Homo sapiens: one gene and its partners. The protein of the gene in region 3 interacts with the protein of the main gene of each other region in a biochemical or structural test. Each region holds a gene or a part of one and is shown on either strand. Other genes may lie near its edges. The genes, in order: MAFK, SYMPK and KAT6A.

Region 1 (7,170 bases), on a different chromosome or scaffold from region 3:
CTTGATCCCAGCCCTCAAGCATCACCCGCCTGAACCCACAGCACCTGCCCAGGCTCCGGCCTCCAGCGTCTCCTGTCTGGACCACAGCTTTGCCAAATGGGATGCCCTCACCCTGATCCTGGTGCCCCCCACACAGCCCCACAGGCAGTCAAAAGTCTTGGGGGTTCCTCCCAAACCCCGACTCCCCCACCCCAATGCCGTTTCAGGTTTCTGATCACCATCTGCAGAGAGCACGTGGTTCCCTGCCCTGCTTCTTCCAGAAACACTCCCCACTGCTCTCCTCCTCGCGTAGGCAAGCACCCTCTACCAAGGCCTGGTTCTAGATCCTTCTGGGGACAGGGGGCCTCCCCAAGGCATGGTGAGCTCCTTGCAAGCAGGGAGAAGGTCTTCCCTACACCCCACACTAGCCCCCGCTGTACGAGATGAGCCGGCCCCGCATGGGAGGGCAGGGAGAGGGCAGTCTCCACCCCAATACCTTCCCCAGGACACCCGACGCACAGTGCGGAGAAGCAGGAAGGCTCTACACCAGACCCCACCGGCCTGTGGGACAGGCCAGCAGACCTCATGGCCTGGGCTTCCTCATCTACAGCAGCTGGTCGGGGGGTGGGGCATGTGGCCACTCAAGTTCGCTTGTACCTGCTCTAAAACTCTATGATTTTAAGACGACACTCCCAGTTTCCTGAAACTGTAGGAAAGCGGAAACATGACGAGTCTGTGACTTATAAAAAGCAAAAATAAATAGCGGGGAAAGGCATCTTCCATTCGCGGAGAGCAGGGAGGGTGGGGACGGAGCGGTGAGTCACTGTTTACTGTTGAAAGGCGGCCACACGGAGCCCTCTCTCAGCTGGCCAGATTTCCATTTCCCGTGTGGACTGGACCCGAAACCCAGAAAGTCCACTCCAGAAACCTTTAGACTCAGAAACAGCTGGGACAAGAACAGGCACAACTTCTTCTCCGTCTGGGTGGCAAACAGCTTTGCCAGAGACTGTAAACAAACGCAGCCATCGCTGAGCCCCGTGGGTGAAAGCACACGCCTTGTAGACAGCGAAGTGGCCCGGAAGACGGTCTCCCTTAACAGCAGCCTCCCGGGTGCACACAAAGGCTGGCGCCCCGACAACCCTGACCCTCGGTAAACGCTGGCTCCCGGGTTTACCAGCACCTGGGGAGTCGACGCTGCGGGCAACCAGCCCCTCAAAGCCCTGGCTCGGTTCAAGGATAAAAGGCAGGAGAAGCCTGGTTTTTCTGCTTTAATAAATGTCTTATTTTGGAATAATGAGAGGTCTAGTTTTAAAAGCAGACTCCCTCTCCCAAGGTCAAACTCAGACATTCCTACTGGGTTACCTAAGAAAGGGAGATGTTCTCATAAATGGCACTGGACGCCCAAATAGGGTGTAGGTGTGTCCCAGACACCTGCACAGCCCACCTATGTTCTCCAGACCCCGCCCACGGCTCTTTTAATGCTCCATGTCCCTGAAGACATTGGGTTTGGAGAAGCTGCATAGGGCACCCCACTCTGTGTTGGAGAACCCCTTACAACAACACACCGTGACGGTGAAACCTCAGTGCCAGTAAAGAGACCTGGCAGCCCACCCTGGAGAATCAGAGGGGTGGGAAGGGCGCTGCCAGAGCCGAACCACACAGATATCCCCTAGACCACGATGGGGGGCGGTGGGGGGCGTTTTGAGTCTCAGGATCTTCCCAAGGCCAGGCACCTGGCCAGAGATTGGCTGGCTGCCTGTGGGTCACCTGGTGAATGAATGGTGAGTGGATCTAATTTCTGCCTCAGCTACAAGAGCTACTTAAGAAGCAAGAAAACAGCATGCTCAGGGACGCAGGACACCAGGAGAGGGACACGGGAGGCCCCGCGAACACGGACACACACGGTGTGAGCGCGAGAATGCAGTGCAGGGCCACTGCTGTGTCCCAGGCGGACCCAGGTCAAGGGCCAAGGCCAGGCGGGGTCCTGGCTTTCTGGGTTTCTCGGTGGCGCCTGGTCCCACCCCCCAGGATCTAGAGGCTGTGCAGACGCAGACACACACAGTCACGGGCACATACACAGTTTCCTGAACTTGACAGAGGCACAGAAGAACTCACGCAGTGGGAGCGGGAAGAGGCCGGAGCCCCTGCCCCACACGTGAGCAAAGGGACGAGCCTTGGGGCCACTGTCACCTGCCCCCCTCCCGCCTCCCCACGGCCTTCCTTCCAGCAACCCTGGCAGGTGGGCGGCTGAGAGCGACACCAGTCCCAGGATCCCGCCTGTGGGGAGACCCGGTTACCCCCACCCCGTTCCCGGGCACGCGTGACCCCAGCCACTGGGCCAGAGCGCCGCCCGTCACCGGGAGGAAGCGCGGGGGGCAGTCCGGGGCCGCACGCGGAAGCCACGCTGGGGCGGAAGCCGCGGAGAATCCACGCGCCCGCGCCCTCCCCGCACCGCCCGCACGTGGCGCCCGCCCCGCCCCGCCCCCCGCAGGTGTGAAGGCGCGGGCCCGATGCGCGCCGCCGACCCGCGTGGATCCTCGTCCTCCCAGGTCTGGGGTCCGCGCCCTGGGGCCCCCGGCGCGGCAAGCATGGCCCGGGCGGCACGTGCAGGGGAGAGAGCCTCGCGTCCCGGGGAAGCCCCCGGGCCTGCGGGGCGGGGCCCACCTGGGCAGGTGCCCGGGCCGCGCCGCGGGCCGCATGAGGGTCTCGGGCCCCGCGCACCCAACCCCGCCACCCTCGGCCCGCGCCCCCAGGCGGCCGTGACTCAGCGGCCAGGTAGCCCCGGCCCCGCGCCCCGGTCCCCGTCCCCGCCGCGGCCCGGGCCCCGCTGCCCCACCGCCCCTCACCTGGCGTCGCGCGGAGGGCGCGGGCGCGCGGCGGCTCCTCGCGGGCACGCGCTGTCCTCGCGCCGGCGCTCACTGTCGCGCTCCCCTCGGCCGCCGCCGCCGCCTGGCGCTCGGGCTCCGACTTCGCGAAGAACAACAAGTGCCCCCGCGCCGCCCGCCGCCACCGCACCCGCCCGCCCGGCTCCCCAGCATCTGACACCGCTTCCGGGATCCGCGGCGCGCGCGTCACACCGCCCTGCCCCCCGGGCCACGCCCCCTCCCCGCCCCGCGGCCACGCCCCCCGGCCACGCCCTCCTCTCCCGCCCGGGGGGCCGCTGGCCCCGCGCGCACCTGCAATCCCCGCGCTTTGGGAGGCCCTGCGGGAAGATCTCTGGAGGCCGGGAGTTCAAGACCAGCCTGGGCAACATAGCGAAACCTCCCTTCCCCCATTCTCTGTCTCTATAAACATAAAAAACATTAAGGCCAGCTGGGAACGGTGGCTCATGCCTGTAATCCCAGCACTTTGGGAGGCCAAAGCAGGAGGATCGCTTGAGCCCAGGAGTTCCAGACCAGCCTGGACAACACAGTGAGACCCCCATCTCTACAAAAAAATTACAAAAATTAGTCGGGCGTGGTGGTATGTGCCTGCGGCCCCAGATATTCAGGAGGCTGAGGCAGGAGGATGGCTTGAACCTGGAAGGTGGAGGCTGCCATGATTTCATCACTGCACTCTAGCCTGGGTGACAAGGTGAGACCCTGTCTCAAAAAAACAAAACAAGCAAACCAGCAATGTAAAAATGGGGATAAGCGGCTAGTGATCACAGCCTCTGTGGGTGGGGCCAGCCCCCTTCTAAAGCCCCAGCTGGTGGTTGCCAGGGGACACAGCAGGCCCAGGATGGGGTTAGGGCACCACTGGCCCAAGGAGTCCTGTGAGGGATCCTCAGGTGGGGGCGGGCCCCTGAGGGAGCTGCCTCTGCTTCCTGTCACAGGTGGAGGACAGGCTGGAGAGGGGATCCGTCTGGAGCCCCTTGCCACGCTTCTGGGTCCCCAAGTCCCGCCCCCCTCTGAGCGCTGCAGGAAGAGGAGTTTCAGGCCTGGGCAACCGAGGGCCCCCCAGGACACCCATGGCATCTGCCCGGGGTTCTGGGAAGCCTGTTTTCTCAGCTCAGGTGGGACCCGGGAGCCTGTTTTCTCGGCTCAGGTGGGACTCAGGAGCCAGTGCAGGGAGGTCTGTGCATCTTCTGGGTGTCGTCCTTACCACCATGTGGCTGGGGATTTAGGCAGCAGCCCAGTGGCCTCTTGCTGTGGAGCGCGGGGGCAGCCTCCCGGGCCATCTCTCCCCCCCACTTGCGGGTTCTGCACTGGCCACCTGGGAGGCCCCTCCTTGCTAAGGCCCACACGGCCGTCTGGGGCAGCTAGCCACAGTGATGCCTGCAACCTGGCCGCAGAAACAGGTGCCAAGAAATAACTCAACAGCAGCAGTAGCGACAATGTCCCACGTCCCCAGGATGTTTGCAGAAAGACATCCCCCGGGGATGGGAAAGGTGCTTCCCTTGTCCTGGCCCACACTCTGCACTCGGGGTCCTGGGATGCGCTGGGAGCCTCCAGAGAAGCTGTGGCCATCTCCGCGGGACTCTTTACGTTACTCATGGTGTCGCTCCTCTAACCCAAATGCATTCTTTCCATAGCAGGCTTTTGTTACTAATCACACACTTTTATTATCTCTTTAATTTTTTAATTTGTATTTATTTATTTCTGAGATGGAGTCTCACTCTGTCGTCCAGGCTGGAGTGCAGTGGCACCATCTCGGCTCACTGCAGCCTCCGCCTCCCAGGTTCAAGTGATTCTCCTGCCTCAGCCCCCTCGAGTAGCTGGGATCACAGGTGCCCACCACCACGTCTGGTTAAATTTTGTTTTTGTTCTTGTTGCTGTTTTGAGATGGAGTCTCACTCTGTTGCCAGGCTGGAGTGCAGTAGCACGATCTCGGATCACTGCAAGCTCCGCCTCCCAGATTTAAACAATTCTTCTGCCTCAGCCTCCTGAGTAGCTGGGACTACAGATGCCTGCCACCACGCCCGGCTAATTTTTTTTTTTTTTGTATTTTTAGTAGAGACGGGTTTCACCATGTTAGCCAGGATGGTCTCAATCTCTTGACCTTGTGATCTGCCTGCCTCGGCCTCCCAAAGTGCTGGGATTACAGGCGTGCGCCACCACACCGGCTGATTTTTGTATTTTTCGTAGAGACGGTTTCACCATGTTGGCCAGGCTGGTCTCGAACCCCTGACCTCAGGTGATCCACCCGCCCTGGCCTCCCAAAGTGCTGGGATTACAGGCGTGAGCCACTGCATCCAGCCTAATTTTTAAAATTTTGAATTATTTATTTATGTTTGTTTTATGAGACAACATCTCACTGTCGCCCAAACTGGAGTTCACTGGTGCAATCACAGTTCCCTGTAGCCTCCACCTCCCAGGTTCAAGTGATCCTCCCACCTCAGCCTCCTAAGTAGCTGGGACCAAGGGCTGGTGCTACCACGCTTGGCTAATTTTCTTTGTTTTTTTTTGTAGAGACAGGATCTTGCTCTGTTGCCTAGGCTGGTCTTGAACTCCTGGGCTCAAGTGATCCTCCCGCCTCGTCCTCTCAACGTGTTGGGATTACACGCATGAGCCACTGTGCCTAGCCAAAGTTTACTTTTTATTGTGGTAAAGTAAACATCACATAGAATTTACCATTTTAACCATTTTTTTTAAGTTAAAAAAATATTTTTTCAGAGATAGGGTCTTGCTACGTTGGTCAGGTTGGTCTTGAACTCCTGGCCTCAAGCAATCCTCCTACCTCAGCCTCCCAAAGTGCTAAGATCACAGGTGTGATTAGGTGAATAGGCTGGGCATGGTGGCCATCACACTAGGCCAAGTTAACCATTCTAAGTGTACGGTTCGGTGGCGTTAAGTACATTCACGTTGTGGTACAAACATTGCCATCATCCATCTCCAGAAATTTTTCATCATTTAGTAGTTCCTTTTGTAAAAAAATGTTAAGTTCTGGCTGGGCAAGCTGGCTCACGCCTGTAATCCCAGCACTTTGGGAAGCTAAGGTGGGTGGATCACCTGAGGTCAGGAGTTCAAGACCAGCCTGACCAACATGGAGAAACCCTGTCTCTACTAAAAATACAAAATTAGCTGAGTGTGGTGGCGCATGCCTATAATCCCAGCACTTTGGGAGGCTGAGACGGGCAGATCACCTGAGGTCGGGAGTTCAAGAGCATCCTGACCAACATGGAGAAACCCCATGTCTACTAAAAATACAAAATTAGCCAGATGTGGTGACTCACGCCTGTAGTCCCAGCTACTCGGGAGCCTGAGGCAGGAGAACCACTTGAACCCAGGAGGCGGAGGCTTCAGTGAGCCGAGATTGCACCATTGTACTCCAGCCTGGGAAACAAGAGCAAAACTCTGTCTCCAAAAAAAGAAAAAGTGTGTGTGTGTGTGTGTGTGTGTGTGTGTGTGTGTGTGTGTGTGTGTGTGTTTTGAAACAGGATCTCATTCTGCCACCCAAGCTGGCGGGCAGTGGCACGATCCTGGCTCACTGCAGCCCGGACCTCCTGGGCTCAAGCAATCCTCCTGCCTCAGCCTCCCAAGTAGCTGGGACTACAGGCATGCACCATCATGCCCAGCTAACTTTTATATTTTTAAATAGAGATAGGGTCTCACTAGGCTGCTTAGGCTGTTCTTGAACTCCTGGGCTCAAGCAATCCATCTGCTTCAGCCTCCCAAAGAGCTGGGATTACAGGCATGAGCAACTGTGCCCAGCCTTGAAGAAAACATATGTAACTTTCTTTATAACTTCAGAGTGGAAAAAGGTTACTCTAATCATGATTAAAAATCTAAATACCACAAAACAGATTCAAGGCAAAAATCCTCGGAAGTAAAGTCACAACACAAAGCACACACTAGGAAAAATACTTGCAACTCAGATCTACCAGGCAAAGGGCTCCTAAACGTGTATGAAAGAACACAACCAATAAAAGAAGGCAAAGGAGGTGAATAGATCATCCACGGAAAAAGAAATCCACAGGACAAACATGTGAAAAGGTGTCTGTAATCAGAGAAATGCACATCAGAGAAAGACATTGCCGTTCTGCTTCTTGTCCAGGCGAATCCCCAAATCAGATCTCGTGCCCCAAAGGCACGGCTCAGGGAGCGAGCCCTTGGACGCATTGCTGGTGGAGGGGCCAGGCAGCGGAGCCCCAGGGAAGGAGTCTGGCCACACTGTCCATGAGACCATGGCCCCGATTTGTGCTAGAACCCAGCAATCCCACTACTTCTTTGTCCTTCTCCTCCTCCTCCTTCTCCTCCTCCTCCTCCTCCC
Region 2 (7,106 bases), on a different chromosome or scaffold from region 3:
ACAGCCTTGCCCGTGGGTGGGCAGGGCCTGGTGGGCTCAGGGGCCTCACCGGCTGCTCAATGACCCTCAGCACCGTCCGCTTGATGTCGGCGATGGCTTCAGTGTACACGGCCGCCAGTTCGTGGATCAGCTTGTGGTTCTGAGGCAGGAGGGCCAGGTAGAGGTACAGACACTGCTTCACTGTCTCCTCCGTCCAGGGTGCTGCCACCTCTGACAGGGCAGGAGCGGGCATCAGATTGGCCCACACTCTTCTCCAACCCCCTCGGACCCTCAGGAATGTCCCTTCTTGGGCAGTGGAGCCGGGGAGGGCAGAGAAGGGAGCCGGGGCTGGGGAGCTAATTGTTCTAGGGCAGGGAAATGGCGGGGACCAGGACTTCCCACCTCCAGCCTCCCGTGACTGCCAACACACAAGGCAACTAGAAGGATCTTTCTAAAGTGCGATCCTGACCCTGTCCCTCTCTGGCTCCAATCCCAGCCATGCCTGCCCTGTGGCCTCAGAATAAACCCCCAGCTCCCTGCCTCACACTGTCTGCCAGGTGTTGTATGGGGTGGCCCCGGCCCGCTGCTGCTCTGCTGCCCTCCATGTTGGTCACATACCCATTCTAACAGTCCCGAGGGCCCTGGTCTCTTTGCCTTTGCATCCACCCTCCTCTTTGCCTGGTCCACGGCACCTGCTCAGCTTCTGGGCCTCCCGAAGGCTGTGCATCTCCTGGGAATGCTTCCTGGCACCTGGGCCAGGCCTCCCGTGCTGCCCTATCATGGCCCAAGCCTTCCCATTTAATGGTCCATTTACTCGGGGTCTGAGTCTACCTGTCTGTAATCCAGGGCTCTGCTGAGGGAACCTGCCTGAGATGGCCCTGCCTGGTCCTTCCTCAGGCCCCACCGATGGCTGGCTCTCCTCGTCCTCCAGATCTCTCTCCCTGACCCCCCAGGCTGGGCCAGATGCCCCCTACCCTGACTCCCACAGCCCCCAGGTGGCTGTCCCAGTCCTGCCCATTCCCGTCACTCGTGTCCGAGTGGCTTCCCCACTCATCCCCTCTGCTCGCAGGGCCCAGAGCGCGGACACAGCAGCGCTCAGTATGCATCTGATGACCTGTGCCCAACCTGTGTCCTTGTCAGCTCCAAACAGCACAGACGGTGGGTTGGGGTGCACCAGGAGCTGCAGGTAGTTGAGGGCAAATTTCTCCACATACTCCCGCAGCTGCTCCTTCTCATACATGCGTTTGATGAACAGCAGGGCCTGGGAGCGCACCTGAGGAGGAAGATGGAGAAGGGCAGGGTCAGGGAAGAGGTAAGAGGAAGAACAGCTATTCCTGCGAGCATGGCAACACTCACGTGAAAACAAGCCCGAGGCTGAGAAGGGGCAGCCCAGCTGTTACCAGGGCCCAGGGCTGGTCCCCAGTGCAGGAGGCAGATATCCTGGCCAGGGCCGGACCCGCAGCACCACCTCACTGCCTGCCTCTCCAGCCCATCTGCCCATCACTGCTTCTTGCCTTGCTCACTAAGCTCCAAGCAGAGGGAGAGCTCCTCAGTTCCTTAAAAGTGCCACTCCCTGCCAAGTCTCCCTAGAACGTCTACTGCCAGCTAAACCCTGTTTCACTCAGATATCATCTGCCAGGAGCCGTGAGGGAAGGGTCTGGTCCTGGGCACTCTGACCCCAGCAGCAGCACATGGCCATGGCCAGGGCCAGGGCCAGGGGTGTGAGATGAAGGTCTGCTGAATGAATGAAAACGCTACCCAGCAAGGGCTGGGGCAAAAGGCTGCAGGCAACGATGGGTCAAGGGCGCTCTCAACCACAGCACGTGCACATCTGTCCCCTCTGTCTAGAGCACACCCAGCTACTGATTTTCCAGGTCTCAGCGTACAAGTCCCCTCCTTGAAAGAAGCCTTCCTTGAAACACCTCCCCTGCCCACCCCACAACCAGATGGTCGGCCCCTCCCTCCCCAGGGCAGCCACACACTGCTCTGCTCAGCTGCTGAGCACGCTGTGTCCTCACTGCTGGCTGAGGCCACACCGGCTCCCCTGCTGGGCTGGGCAATGCCCTCAGGCCCCGGCACAGGACTGGGCTGCACGAGGAGCCTGTGCTGGCCACCACGGGTGGACTAAGAGCGAGAGTGGGACTGCCCTTCCCAGGAGGGCAAGCGCACGTGTGTGTGTGTACACACTACAGGCAGACTCAGGCACGGTAACCCTGGTTTCTAGGCAGCTTGATGCCACTGAAAATGAAAATAAAACAGACAGAAATAGCCAAAAAACCACTGAAAGAAGGGAATGGGCCCAGAGAAACTTGCAAGGGAGTGTGGAAGACGTGGGCTGGTTACTCAGGATAGAGGCGGCCTCTGCAAGCTGCAGGCTGAGGGCAGCCAGGAAGTGGAGGAGGGGATCACCTTGTCCTTCTCATGGGAGCTGAGGTCGAGGAGGACATGCAGGTACTGGAACTGGCGGGACGGGCGCTTGAAGATCAGGTCTCGAAGTGTGGACATGCCCAGATAGGTGCGACTCTGCAGCAAAAGGAAAGGGACCCGAGCTCAGCCCACCTGAGTGTGCCTCTGGGCTCTGTCTTTCCTGCCTGCCTCTGATCAGGTACCTGGACAAAAGGGCCCGGTCCCTCACAAAACCCCCGGCCACAAGGTTTAGACTGTGTGCCCTTCAGACCCCTCAGGGCAGGGCCCTGTCCCCTGCCCCGGGCTGCACTGACCAGGGCCTGTCCTCACCTCATCCTCGCAGTACTTGCGGACCACCTCCAGGGCACTCTCTGTGATGAGTGGCGCCTCCAGCACAACCTTGGTGAAGATCCTGCCAGAGATGGAGGGAGGGCCATGGCTGCAGAGGAAGAGGCCGCCTGGCTCCCGGGCCCTGCTGAATTGTAGGAGCTCAGGGCCAGCAGGCCCTCCCTCAGGGGCTGCTTGTTCAAGCCCCTGCTTATAAAGCTTTGGAGGTGAACAGAACAGGGTTCAAAAGCTGGCGGCTGGATGATCTGGGCAGAGACTGCACCTCTCTGAAACTCATTTCTTCCGTTTGTCAAACAGGGATTCCTAACTTTATTCACTGAACATAAGAACGGGAGGGAATGATGGCGGGTGGAGAAGGGTGTGGGTATTTTAGATATGGTGGCCTCAAAAGGCCGCTTTGAAGTTACAGTTGAGTACACTGGTGGATGAGAAGGAGCCACCCACACATAGAGTTGAGGGAAGAGCATTCCAGGTGGACAGAACAGGAAGCACCAGCGCCCTGAATTTGACATGTTCGAGGAACAGACAGAAGGCCAATGTGGCTAATGTTCGGGGGGTAAAGCCAAAGAGATTGGGTCACATAAGGCCTCACTGGTCACAGTAAGGAGGCTGTGTTTTATCCCAAGACCAATGGAGAACCATGGAAGGTTCCTTGTGGGGAAGTAATAAAAGGATTTATATAATAAAATGTTCCTGGAGCTGCTGTGTGGAGGATAGACGAGTAAGCTGGAGGCCACGGATAGGGAGGAAGCTACAGAACCAACTCAGGTAGTGAATGGGGTGTAGAGAAGTCTATCTCCAGGCCCATGGGTGAGCACTGTTATTTACAGATGGGAAAATGGCAGAGAGAGGGAGTGACAAAGCCACGCAGAGCAAGCTCAGAGCAAGTGGCAGAGCTGAGGAACAGCTCAGGGAGTGCGACCTGGAGCCCACATGCAAAACTACAACCTTGAACGTGCCTCCAGAGGGGGAGGAGGAGAGGAGACTTGGGATGGGTGCGAGGAGGACTGACTCGGGGGGTGACGAAGAGGGAGGTGGTCGCAATCAGAAAGGGAGGGCAGCACCAGGAGAGGAAGCCTCTCGGGGACAGGAGGGTGCAGGGTCAGCCCCCTCACCCATCCTTCTGGTCTGGTTTCTCCTGCAGGCCAGACAACAGGCGGATGAGGCAGTCCTCATACTTGTCCAGGGAGCCCGAGGCACCTGCGGCCAGGTAGGCGTTGTACTCCTGGTAGAGCCAGGCGAAGGCCAGGTCCAGGCGGGCCCGCACATCCTCCAGGATGAAGGACAGGACCTCCGCCTTCAGGCCCGAGTTGAACTGTGTCACCAGGCTGGCCAGGATCTTTATGCGGACCTGGTGGGAGGGTGAGCCAGCATGTCAGTGTAGGGTGGGCAATCCAGGGACTCCGCAATCGTGCCCTGCGACTTCTCCCACCCAGACGCAGGAACTCTCAGAGCAGACAAGGAGTGAAGCGAGGAAGGCCAGCCGAGGACCCTTATGCCTAGGAAGGTCCCGTTTGTGTGTTGGGGGGTGGGGGTACCAGGGTGGGGATCGATCATCACAGAATAAAAATGAGTTTCTAGGAGCAGCACCCATGTACTTAAGTGCACAGAAAAAGATCCTCAAAGATTCCCCTCATTTGTGCCTTTGTCACCTTTGAAGAGAGGGATGGGGTGCAGGTGATGGCCACGGAAGAGTACTGGATCTGGATTCCCCGGAAATATTTTTCAGCTCAGGGAGTATGTTCCTATACTACTGGCTAATCAACAATTAACTTCACAGAATGGGGAAAAAGTCACTTTTCCCCATTCTTTGAAGGTAACAGTGCCAGCAAGTGGCAGAATCAGGACAGAGAACCAGGTATATTTCTAAAGCTAAATAGTAACAGTAAGAACGTTAACAACCGTGAAGAACCAAGACCACAAGAGCAGCCCTCACTTGCAGAGGCCTCCCAGCACCTGCCCTGTGCACCTGAGTGCCTGTGCTCATTGCACATTTCCTCCTCGTCACCCAGGAGGAGCTGCTGCTACTGTCTCTGTTTTATGGAGGATGGGAGTGATCTGGAGAAGCGGCTGTGGGCAGCAGAGCTGGGGTCCGCAGCCAGGGAGGTTTGACGCCAGGGCCAGACTCTTCGCTGGATGTGAGGTAGACGTTTGGGTAGAGGGACTGGAAGGATGGGGTGGGGGGTGGCAGGCGCACACCTGGGCTGCCCCGCTGCAGGCCACAGCCTTCTCAGCCCGCAGGATCCGCTTCACAGCGCCCAGCTTCATGGCTTCCACCTGGGCATCGGTAAGGGGCTTCAGCACGTCGCTGAGACGGAAAATTTTCTTGCGCCCACCAGCGCCTGCCAGCCTGTGTGGAAGAGCAGTGACAGAGATGCAGTGACCCAGACTGCAGCAAAGGCCTGTCTGGTGACTCTCCCAACTTCAAGGACTAGGTAGGCAACAGAGATGGCCCCCATCCCCCTGCTGCCTCTCCAGTTCCTCTGTGTCTCTGAGGCACGGTGTGGCGGTGGGTAAGAGGAAGGAAGAGGATGTTATTTTGGTTTTGCAGAGGGCGTCTTACGGAAGGCTTCTGTGAGTGGGGATCTGAACGGAGGCAGGGACAAGATACACAAATGTCTGGGGGACCAGCTCTCCAGGCAAAGGCCCTTAGGTGGGAACAGACTTGTGGGCACGAGTGGAGGAGGGGTGAGGGTAGCAGAAGAGAGCTCGGAGGGTAGCAGATCCCGCTCAGCTGTGTTAGTAAGACTTGGGGCTGGGCACGGTGGCTCACGCCTGTAATCCCAACACTTTGGGAGGCTGAGGCAGGCGGATCACGAGGTCAGGAGATCGAGACCATCCTGGTTAACACGGTGAAACCCCGTCTCTACTAAAAATACAAAAAATTAGCCAGGCGTGGTGGCGGGCGCCTGTAGTCCCAGCTAATCGGGAGGCTGAGGCAGGAGAATGGCATGAACTCGGGAGGCGGAGCTTGCAGTGAGCTGAGATCGCGCCACTGCACTCCAGCCTGGGAGACAGAGTGAGACTCCGACTCAAAAAAAAATAATAAATAAATAAATAATAAAAAGACTTGGGTGGCCGGGACTGGCTGGATTTTGTGGTGTGTAAGGGAGGTAATAATGGGGACAATGATGATGACAGCCAGTAGCATTTACTACACAACAGGAACCACGCGAAATGCTTGACAATCACAATCACTTTTCACTCGAGTATCTAGTTACCTAACCATCACCATTACCACGAACTAATTTAATTCTTCTTTGATCCTTATGAGAAAGATACTATCATTATCCTAATTTTAGACATAAAAAAGGATTTTTTTTTTTTTTTTTTACAGGAAAGAGAACAGCAAAGGCTTAGTGGTTATGGCACTGACTCGGGAGTCAGAGAGAACCTATTCCAGACTTCCTTCTGTCTGCATCTCAGTTACACACACACACGCACACGCACACGCACACGCACACGAGCTGAGAACCAGACCTTCAGGGTAGGGCTCCTGTCCTGCCCTAGCACCCAGAAGAGGACTCACCGGGGCTGAGTGACAGGGATAATGGGCTCTGGCCTCCTCTTGGCCTGCGGTGCCTCTTCCTCCAGGGGGGACATGGAGCTCAGGGAACCCACCACCGAGATGGCTTGGCCCTGGGCTGACAGGCGCCGCTTGATCAGGACGCTCTCTGTCTTCACCACCTTCTCCTCCTTGGGCTCCTCCTTGCACTGTTTGGTCTGCTCTACACCTGAGGGGGAGGCAGCAAACAGACACCCAGTGCGTCAGACCCACCTGCTCCAACCCGAGGACCTCCTGTGTGCCTGGCTCTGTTCTGAGCCCTGTACACACAAAACCTCGTTTAAATCCACACAACACTGTCCTGGAGTGGGTACTCTTTTTATCCCCACTTTTCAATACAACTGAGGCTCAAACTAGAAATGCCATTCATTGCTGGGGGGAGCAGCAAATGCTACAGCCACTTTGGAAACATGATGAGCAGTTTTTGTTTTTTAGACTGGGTGTCACTCTGTCACCCAGGCTGGAGTACGGTGGTGCAATCAGGGCTCACTGCAGTCTTGACCTCCTGGGCTCAAGCAATCCTCCTGCCTCAGCCTCTCAGCCTCCCAACTAGCTGGGACTACAGGCGCATGCCAACATACCTAGCTAATTTTTGTATTTTTTTGTAGAGATGAGGTCTCCATATGTTGCCCAGCTTAGTCTTGAACTCCTGGGCTCAAGCGATCCTCCCGCCTTGGACTTCCAAAGTGCTGGGATTACAGGTATGAGCCACTGTGCCCAGCCCTCAGCTGTTTTTTTTGGAGACGGAGTCTCACTCCATCACCAAGGCTGGAGTGCAGTGGCTTGATCCTGACTCGCTGCAGCCTCC
Region 3 (7,106 bases):
TGGTGTAAAACTTACTCAGCATCAGGATAAGGGATAACGACTCTATGGATATACAGAATCCTTCACCATGGTAAAACTCGCAAACCCGCTTTATACTGAGTGGATTTTGGAGGCCATCAAAAAAGTGAAAAAGCAGAAACAGCGTCCTTCAGAAGAAAGGATATGCAATGCTGTGTCTTCATCCCATGGCTTGGATCGTAAAACTGTTTTAGAACAATTGGAGTTGAGTGTTAAAGATGGAACAATTTTAAAAGTCTCAAATAAAGGACTCAATTCCTATAAAGATCCTGATAATCCTGGGCGAATAGCACTTCCTAAGCCTCGGAACCATGGAAAATTGGATAATAAACAAAATGTGGATTGGAATAAACTGATAAAGCGGGCAGTTGAGGGCTTGGCAGAGTCTGGTGGCTCAACTTTGAAAAGCATTGAACGTTTTTTGAAAGGTCAGAAGGATGTGTCTGCATTATTCGGAGGCAGTGCTGCCTCTGGCTTTCACCAGCAGTTACGATTGGCTATCAAACGTGCCATTGGCCACGGCAGACTCCTTAAAGATGGACCTCTTTATCGGCTCAACACTAAAGCAACCAACGTGGATGGGAAAGAGAGTTGTGAGTCTCTTTCCTGTTTACCTCCAGTGTCCCTTCTTCCACATGAAAAGGATAAGGTAAGAATGGCATATGCTTCGGGGTTTATAGAGCTGATGATATAGGATGCTACAAATTCACATTTCTGGGAAGTTATATTCAAGTTTTTTGTTTGGGGACTTCTGTGGAGTGATCACCTCTGGTTTTTTATTGGTGAGTTGTAGCTATGAGAGCTTCATAGATTTGTTCTGGTACTTTGAAATATTTGAAGCCTAAGATTAAAAATGTAGAATGTTAATCTGACTAAAAGAACTTATTTACATTACAATGAAAAAGTGACATATGAGTTTAAAACTTTTTTTTAAATTTTTTTTTATTATTTTGCTTGAGGAGTACTCCAGCGTGAGACTTTAAAACTTTAACTAAAGGTTCTTAGAACACCTTACTACTGGAAGTTGATGAGCAGCCAAATCATGGAGACTTGAATTTGAAACAAGCAGATGACTCTGAGAACATTTTTCTGTTTTCCATTTTGTTGCAGATTACTCGTTAGACAGAAATGAGACAGATTCTCATGACCCATAGGCGCAACTAAGCAAACTTAGCAATTCTTGTTTCTGCTGTTTGTATTATAGCTTTCTGTCATGTATTATGGCTTTGCATATGATGAAGTCCTAAATGCTATTTATGACAGCTGTAGTTGCATGGGACAGGAATACAGTATCCTAAACTAGAAAAGTTCTGGAGGGTCTGGAACAGTAGTTCATGCCTGTAATCCCAGCGCTTTGGGAGGCTGGGACAGGAGGATGTCTTGAGCCTAGGAGTTTGAGCCCAGCCTGAGCAATATAGCGAGACCCCACGTCCACCAAAAATAGAAAAATTAGCCAGGTATGGGCGCGCCTGTAGTCCTAGCTACTTGGGAGGCTGTGTCGGGGAGGATTGCTTGAGTACAGGTGTCTGAGGCTCCAGTGAGCTATGCTGTCACCACTGCACTCCAGCCTGGACAACTGAGACCCTGTTCTAAAAACAAAAAGAAAGGTAAAGTTCTGGAGAGTTGGGAGTTTTGATGCCCAGATGTGTACTTTACTCTGTTGTGTTTTAGGATGTTATTGTATATAGTTGAAATTATGACTTCTTAAACAGTAAATTTTGGTGCTTAAATAGATATTTGGAGATTAGGAGAATTTTGTTAGTACCTGTTTTTTACATTGACCTAGTATCTTAGCTGTAAATTTACTTAAGGTGCTCTGAATTATAGTTCCTTGGAGAGCAGTGATGCTTTAAGTTGCTGCACACCTTGGTAGACATAAGTAAAATGATCTTCATTTTGCTTAAGATGATGGAGGATACTCCTAGGGTGGAAAGATGGTAAAGTTAACATTGAATGTATTTTGAAAATTGGAGATTTGATCTCAATTTGTTGTATTATTAGCAGCCCACTGAATACCTGTAGATTTTTCTTTAACAATTGAAAATTAACGGTATTTTTCTTTGATGAAATTTTTAGAGATCTATTTCAGGGTTCAATTTTCCCTGTGAACATTGAAATAAAACATAATCTTACTGTTATTACCCTTGAAATGATTCTCATACAGTCATGAATTGATAGAGAATCTCATTCATAAAATGGCTCTATGTAATTTGAGCATTTATTAAAAGTATATATTAAAAATTCAGGGTAGACAAGTAATTAAAATGCTTTATTCTATATTTAAGTGCTGTAAGAACTCTTACCTGTAGAAACTTTATCACATGTGGCTGAATTTAAATACAGTTATCGGATTTCTACAATTATTAAATGATCTAACAGGTTAACTGCCTGGAAACAGGAAATAATTTATAGTTAGATCAGTTCAGTGCCATACCTGTGAATTGGATGTTATAAGTTCCTGTTAGGCCACCTGTTTGCTTTTATTTATTTATTTTTGAGACAGAATCTCGTTCTGTCACCCAGGCTGGAGTGCAGTGGTGCAGTCTCACTGCAACCTCCGCCTCCCAGGTTCAAGCGATTCTCTTGCCTCAGCCTCCCAAGTAGCTGGGATTACAGACATGCACCACCACGCCCGGCTAATTTTTGTATTTTTAGTAGAGACGGGGTTTCACCTTGTTGGCCAGGCTGGTCTCGAACTCCTGACCTCGAGTGATCCACCCGCCTCTGCCTCCCAAAGTGTTGGGATTACAGGCTTGAGCCACCGTGCCTGGCCTGTTGTTTGCTTTTATTGTAATTACACTTGCTTGAATTATCAATAGATAATTTTAAAAAATATTAGCTATATAAAAATGTCATTTGAGCATATTTTTAAAAGGTAGTAAATATAGTACAGTGCAAGACAAATCCAAGTCCTAGAACCCTGAGATTTTACTTTTGGAAGGGACCCTGAGAACCGTCTAATCCAAGTCCTTATTTTGCAGCTGAGCTAAGGACCTTTGTTGAGACCATTTCATAGCACCTTTGCATTAAGAAAAGTTTAATTCAGTAGAGATGTGCTGTTTTGCTTTGACTGGAGTGCAGTGGTGTGATCTCAGCTCACTGCAACCTTCGCCTCCCGGGTTCAAGCGATTCTTCTGCCTCAACCTCCTGAGTAGCTGGGATTATAGGTTTGCGCCACCACGTGTGGCTACTTTTTTTTTTTTTTTTTTGTATTTTTAGTAGAGACAGGGTTTCACCATGTTGGCTAGGCTGGTCTCAACTCCTGACCTCAAGCGACCTGCCCACCTCGGTCTCTCAAAGTGCCAAGATTATAGGAATGATCCACCGCACCTGGCCACATTTGATTTTGGAGAAATAAAGCAAGAAAAACAAAAGTGATTTAATAATTGAAAAAATGAAAAAGAAATGCCCATTTGCTTACATAGCTTTCATATATAGTGTTTTTTTGTTTTTTTTTTTTTTTTGAGATGGAATTTCGCTCTTGTTGCCCAGGCTGGAGTGCAGTGGCACGATCTTGGCTTACTGCAGCCTCCGCTGCCCAGGTTCAAGCAATTCTTCCTTCTCAGCCTCCCATGTAGCTGGGATTACAGGCATGCTGACCACCATGCCTGGCTAATTTTGTATTTTTAGTAGAGACGGGGTTTCTCCCTGTTGGTCAGGCTCATCTCGAACTCCCAACCTCAGGTGATCCGCCCACCTTGGCCTCCCAAAGTGCTGGCATTACAGGCATGAGCCACCCTGCCTATAGTGTTAACTGAAGTAACTAAATTTAGACATGTTGGAAAATAGAGTTTGTTTCTTCAGGTAGACTTGTATATGTACTAATCTCATTGGAAAACTAATTTCATGATAGTATCTATTCAATTAGAGTTGGTGAGCTCTGTTCTATATTTTTAAATGGAGTCTTATTTTCAGTAGTGAATTTCCTGTGTGACTTCCCCCAAAGATATGAAAAGTTTACATTAAAAATCGTAATACAGTGAACTCTAGGATGAGAGATTATTCCTTTGAACAGATTATGTCTGCTCCTTTTATTGTATTTTAACTATTTTCTTTCCTCTCCTTCGAACTACGCAGTCAGTTGCTATGCAGAATTGATAGTTTGCTGTTACGAACCTAGATGTTCTCAAAAAAAGAAAAGAATTATCCAGAGTTTATTTGACAGTGATGGAGAAAGGAAGGTGTATAGGTCAGGAGTAGTTTCACTTTTAGGAATTAATTGGTTCAGCATATAGTCATTGAGCACCTACTGTGGGCCAGGCACTCTGCTTGGAACAGAAACAGTTCTGTCTTCTCTGGGATGCTAATGCAGGTATTTCTATTGACCTGGCCAACTGTAAGGTGAAGATGAAATTCAAAGACTGCGTGGAGTAACCCGAGCAAGTTCCTCTTTACTTTTTCTGGTATCAATTCTAACTTTTTGTTTTTTTTTGGTGATATTAACCTTTGGAAGGAACTGTATGTTAGATTTTCGGCAGCTGAGTGGTTTTGATCCTTTTGGGAGATCAACTGTGTTGGAATACGTTTAAGAGGAGTTTTTGTGAAGACATTGGAACTTTAGTGTGTTCTTTTCACATTGATAAGTACTGAGGAGAATCCATGGGATACTGTGATTAAAAGTTTTTAGGCCAGGCCTGGTGGCTCAGGCCTGTAATCCCAGCACTTTGGGATGCCGAGGGGGGGGTGGATCACCTGAGGTCAGGAGTTCAGGACCAGCCTGGCCAATATGGTGAAACCCCATCTCTACAGAATACAAAAATCAGCCCGGCATGATGGTGGGTGCCTGTAATCCCAGCTACTCGGTAGGCTGAGGCAGGATAATCGCTTGAACCCAGGAGGCGGAGGTTGTAGCGAGCCTAGATTGTGCCACTGCACTCCAGCCTGGGCAACAGAGCAAGACTCCATCTCAAAAAAAAAAAAAAAAAAAAGTTTTTACCCATGTTATAAGGGAAATTTTTGAGCTAACTTTAGAGTGTGGTAGTTAATGGTGAGTTTATTTATTAAAGTGTTTATTTACTATGTGCCAGGCGTTATTTTAATGCTGTATATATATTAACTCATTTAATCCTCTAACATAACTAGCTACTGTTAGGTTAGTTAGTTATTAATAACATAACAGTACCAGCAGTGAAATAGCTACTGTTATTTTACAGGTGAAGAAACTGAGGCATAAAAGAGATTTCAGTAACTTGCTGAAGTCACACAAATATTAGGTGGCAGAGCTGGGATTTGAATTTGGGCAGTCTGGCTCCAGAGTCTTTGTAATAGCCATACTGACCACCTCTTAGGAGCAGTAATGTATGATGGCTATCACTGCACTCAAGTACAGAATCGTGAATGTCCTTGGTGTTAACTTCATAGCACATTTCCTAATTGTTAAAGGACAAATTCCCGCCCGTCTTCATTGTGTCCATTTTTCTTTTTTTGCAGAACAGATTTGAAAATTCACTTTGGACCAGTGATAAGAATGTGTTAGGAACCAAAGATTAGGAGTAATCTAGTTTTGTATATCTGAGGTCCATTAAAAAAAAGTTTCACCTACATGCCATTTTTTTCCCTTAAAGATAATTTCTGTGCTAACTAATTTTCATTTCAGTTGTCACTAACATTTTCTGATAGGCAAGGTAGGGATCAGTTGTATTGCTATACCAGAGTGCTTTAATTTGGGACAGAAATACTGTTTTCCTTGAATCATGGGATTATAGGTGAGGAGAAGAGTGTGTAACTGGCTTAAATAGCATCTTCCTCTTTGTAAATTTCTTTTTGAAATATAGATATTACTGTAAGGTAATTTGTTCCATTTACTTCAGTTATTCATTATTTATTTAGCAAACATTTGAATGCCTGCCATGAACAGTGGATTTAAGATTTAGGTCCTGTGAGGGGATTAAAGCAGACAGAATAGAGATACAAAATAAATTTTTTGAAAGCCTTTTTTAGTTTATGAACTGTAATTTTTTTACATTATTATTTTTTCATAACAATTAAGTATCATGACTCAGAAATAATAATATGTTTAGTGGGCAAGGCAATTATTTGAGACTGTGATGGTCCATTTAAAAAATTATCTTTATATAGTGAGTCTTGGAAAGATTCAATTTCCTTTCAAGAATAGTTTTCACCTTGATTTCAAACTTCTGAGTTCATTTTTACACACTGACATAATTTACTTGAATATATATAGTTTGTGTTCTGTATTACTAGCCCAGAAAAATATTCTCTTTCATGGTAATCAGCCAGATCATTAAAAGTATTGTTATTTGGTGGCATAGTATTTTGGAACAGAATTATAATTTGCTAAAGCGTTCAGTTGGACAGGGAAGAGTAGGTATTGTCAACTAATGTTATTGTTCAGGTTACTCCCAGCTGGGTAACCTGGAGCAGAAAGATCCAATGATAAATCTCTTGCCTTCTACTCTAAGTTACATCTCAATTTGGTCAACTCTTAGTAGAGTCCAAATTATTTTGTTTTATTGGAATTTATATTTTAAATTATAGAGGAAGTAGAGCTTTGACAGGAATTTAGAATTTAAATTTTCGATGTAGAGATACTGATTAAAATGGGGATTTTTTTTTTTTTTTTGAGAGATGGAGTCTTGCTTTGTTGCCCAGGCTGGAGTGCAGTGGTGCAACCTCCACCTCCTGGGTTCAAGCGATTCTCCTGCCTCAGCCTCCCGAGTAAGCTGGGATTATAGGCGCATGCCACCATGCCCGGCTAATTTTTATATTTTTAGTAGAGATGGGGTTTCACCAGGTTGGCCAGGCTGGTCTCGAACTCCTGACCTCATGATCCGCCTGCCTCGGCCTCCCAGAGTGCTGGGATTATAGGCGTGAGCCACCGTGCCCGGCCAGGGATATGTTTTTAAGTTACTGAAAGTTAAGAGTGATGAAGTTTTGATTTAGCTATTTGGAAATGACCTTTATAGTAGAATAGTTGCACATTTTATATGTTAGAATGGTGGTATTTTATAAGAAAATTGTTAACCAATATAAGCTTGGAAATTTCAATTTCAATTACTCTGTTGCGTTGATACTGTATAAAAAGGCAATAAATAGTTGTCCATGCTATTAAATTCAGGGCTATGTGG

What was found.
Region 1: the proteins of KAT6A (region 3) and MAFK form a complex in vitro, tested with the Homo sapiens proteins (one study listed by BioGRID).
Region 2: the proteins of KAT6A (region 3) and SYMPK form a complex in vitro, tested with the Homo sapiens proteins (one study listed by BioGRID).

The regions. Positions count from the first base shown.
Region 1 is NC_000007.14:1,526,554-1,533,723, reverse strand, and holds the start of MAFK (transcription factor MafK), read right to left. Parts: upstream 3,023-7,170; 5' UTR 2,826-3,022; intron 1,272-2,825; exon of another isoform or gene 1-1,271. UniProt on the Homo sapiens protein: Since they lack a putative transactivation domain, the small Mafs behave as transcriptional repressors when they dimerize among themselves.
Region 2 is NC_000019.10:45,825,122-45,832,227, forward strand, and holds part of SYMPK (symplekin), read right to left. Parts: intron 6,468-7,106; coding exon 6,263-6,467; intron 5,084-6,262; coding exon 4,933-5,083; intron 4,085-4,932; coding exon 3,849-4,084; intron 2,798-3,848; coding exon 2,716-2,797; intron 2,503-2,715; coding exon 2,389-2,502; intron 1,253-2,388; coding exon 1,105-1,252; intron 211-1,104; coding exon 50-210; intron 1-49. UniProt on the Homo sapiens protein: Scaffold protein that functions as a component of a multimolecular complex involved in histone mRNA 3'-end processing. Specific component of the tight junction (TJ) plaque, but might not be an exclusively junctional component. May have a house-keeping rule.
Region 3 is NC_000008.11:42,041,939-42,049,044, reverse strand, and holds part of KAT6A (histone acetyltransferase KAT6A), read left to right. Parts: 5' UTR 1-67; coding exon 68-667; intron 668-5,469; exon of another isoform or gene 5,470-5,541; intron 5,542-7,106. UniProt on the Homo sapiens protein: Histone acetyltransferase that acetylates lysine residues in histone H3 and histone H4 (in vitro). Component of the MOZ/MORF complex which has a histone H3 acetyltransferase activity. May act as a transcriptional coactivator for RUNX1 and RUNX2.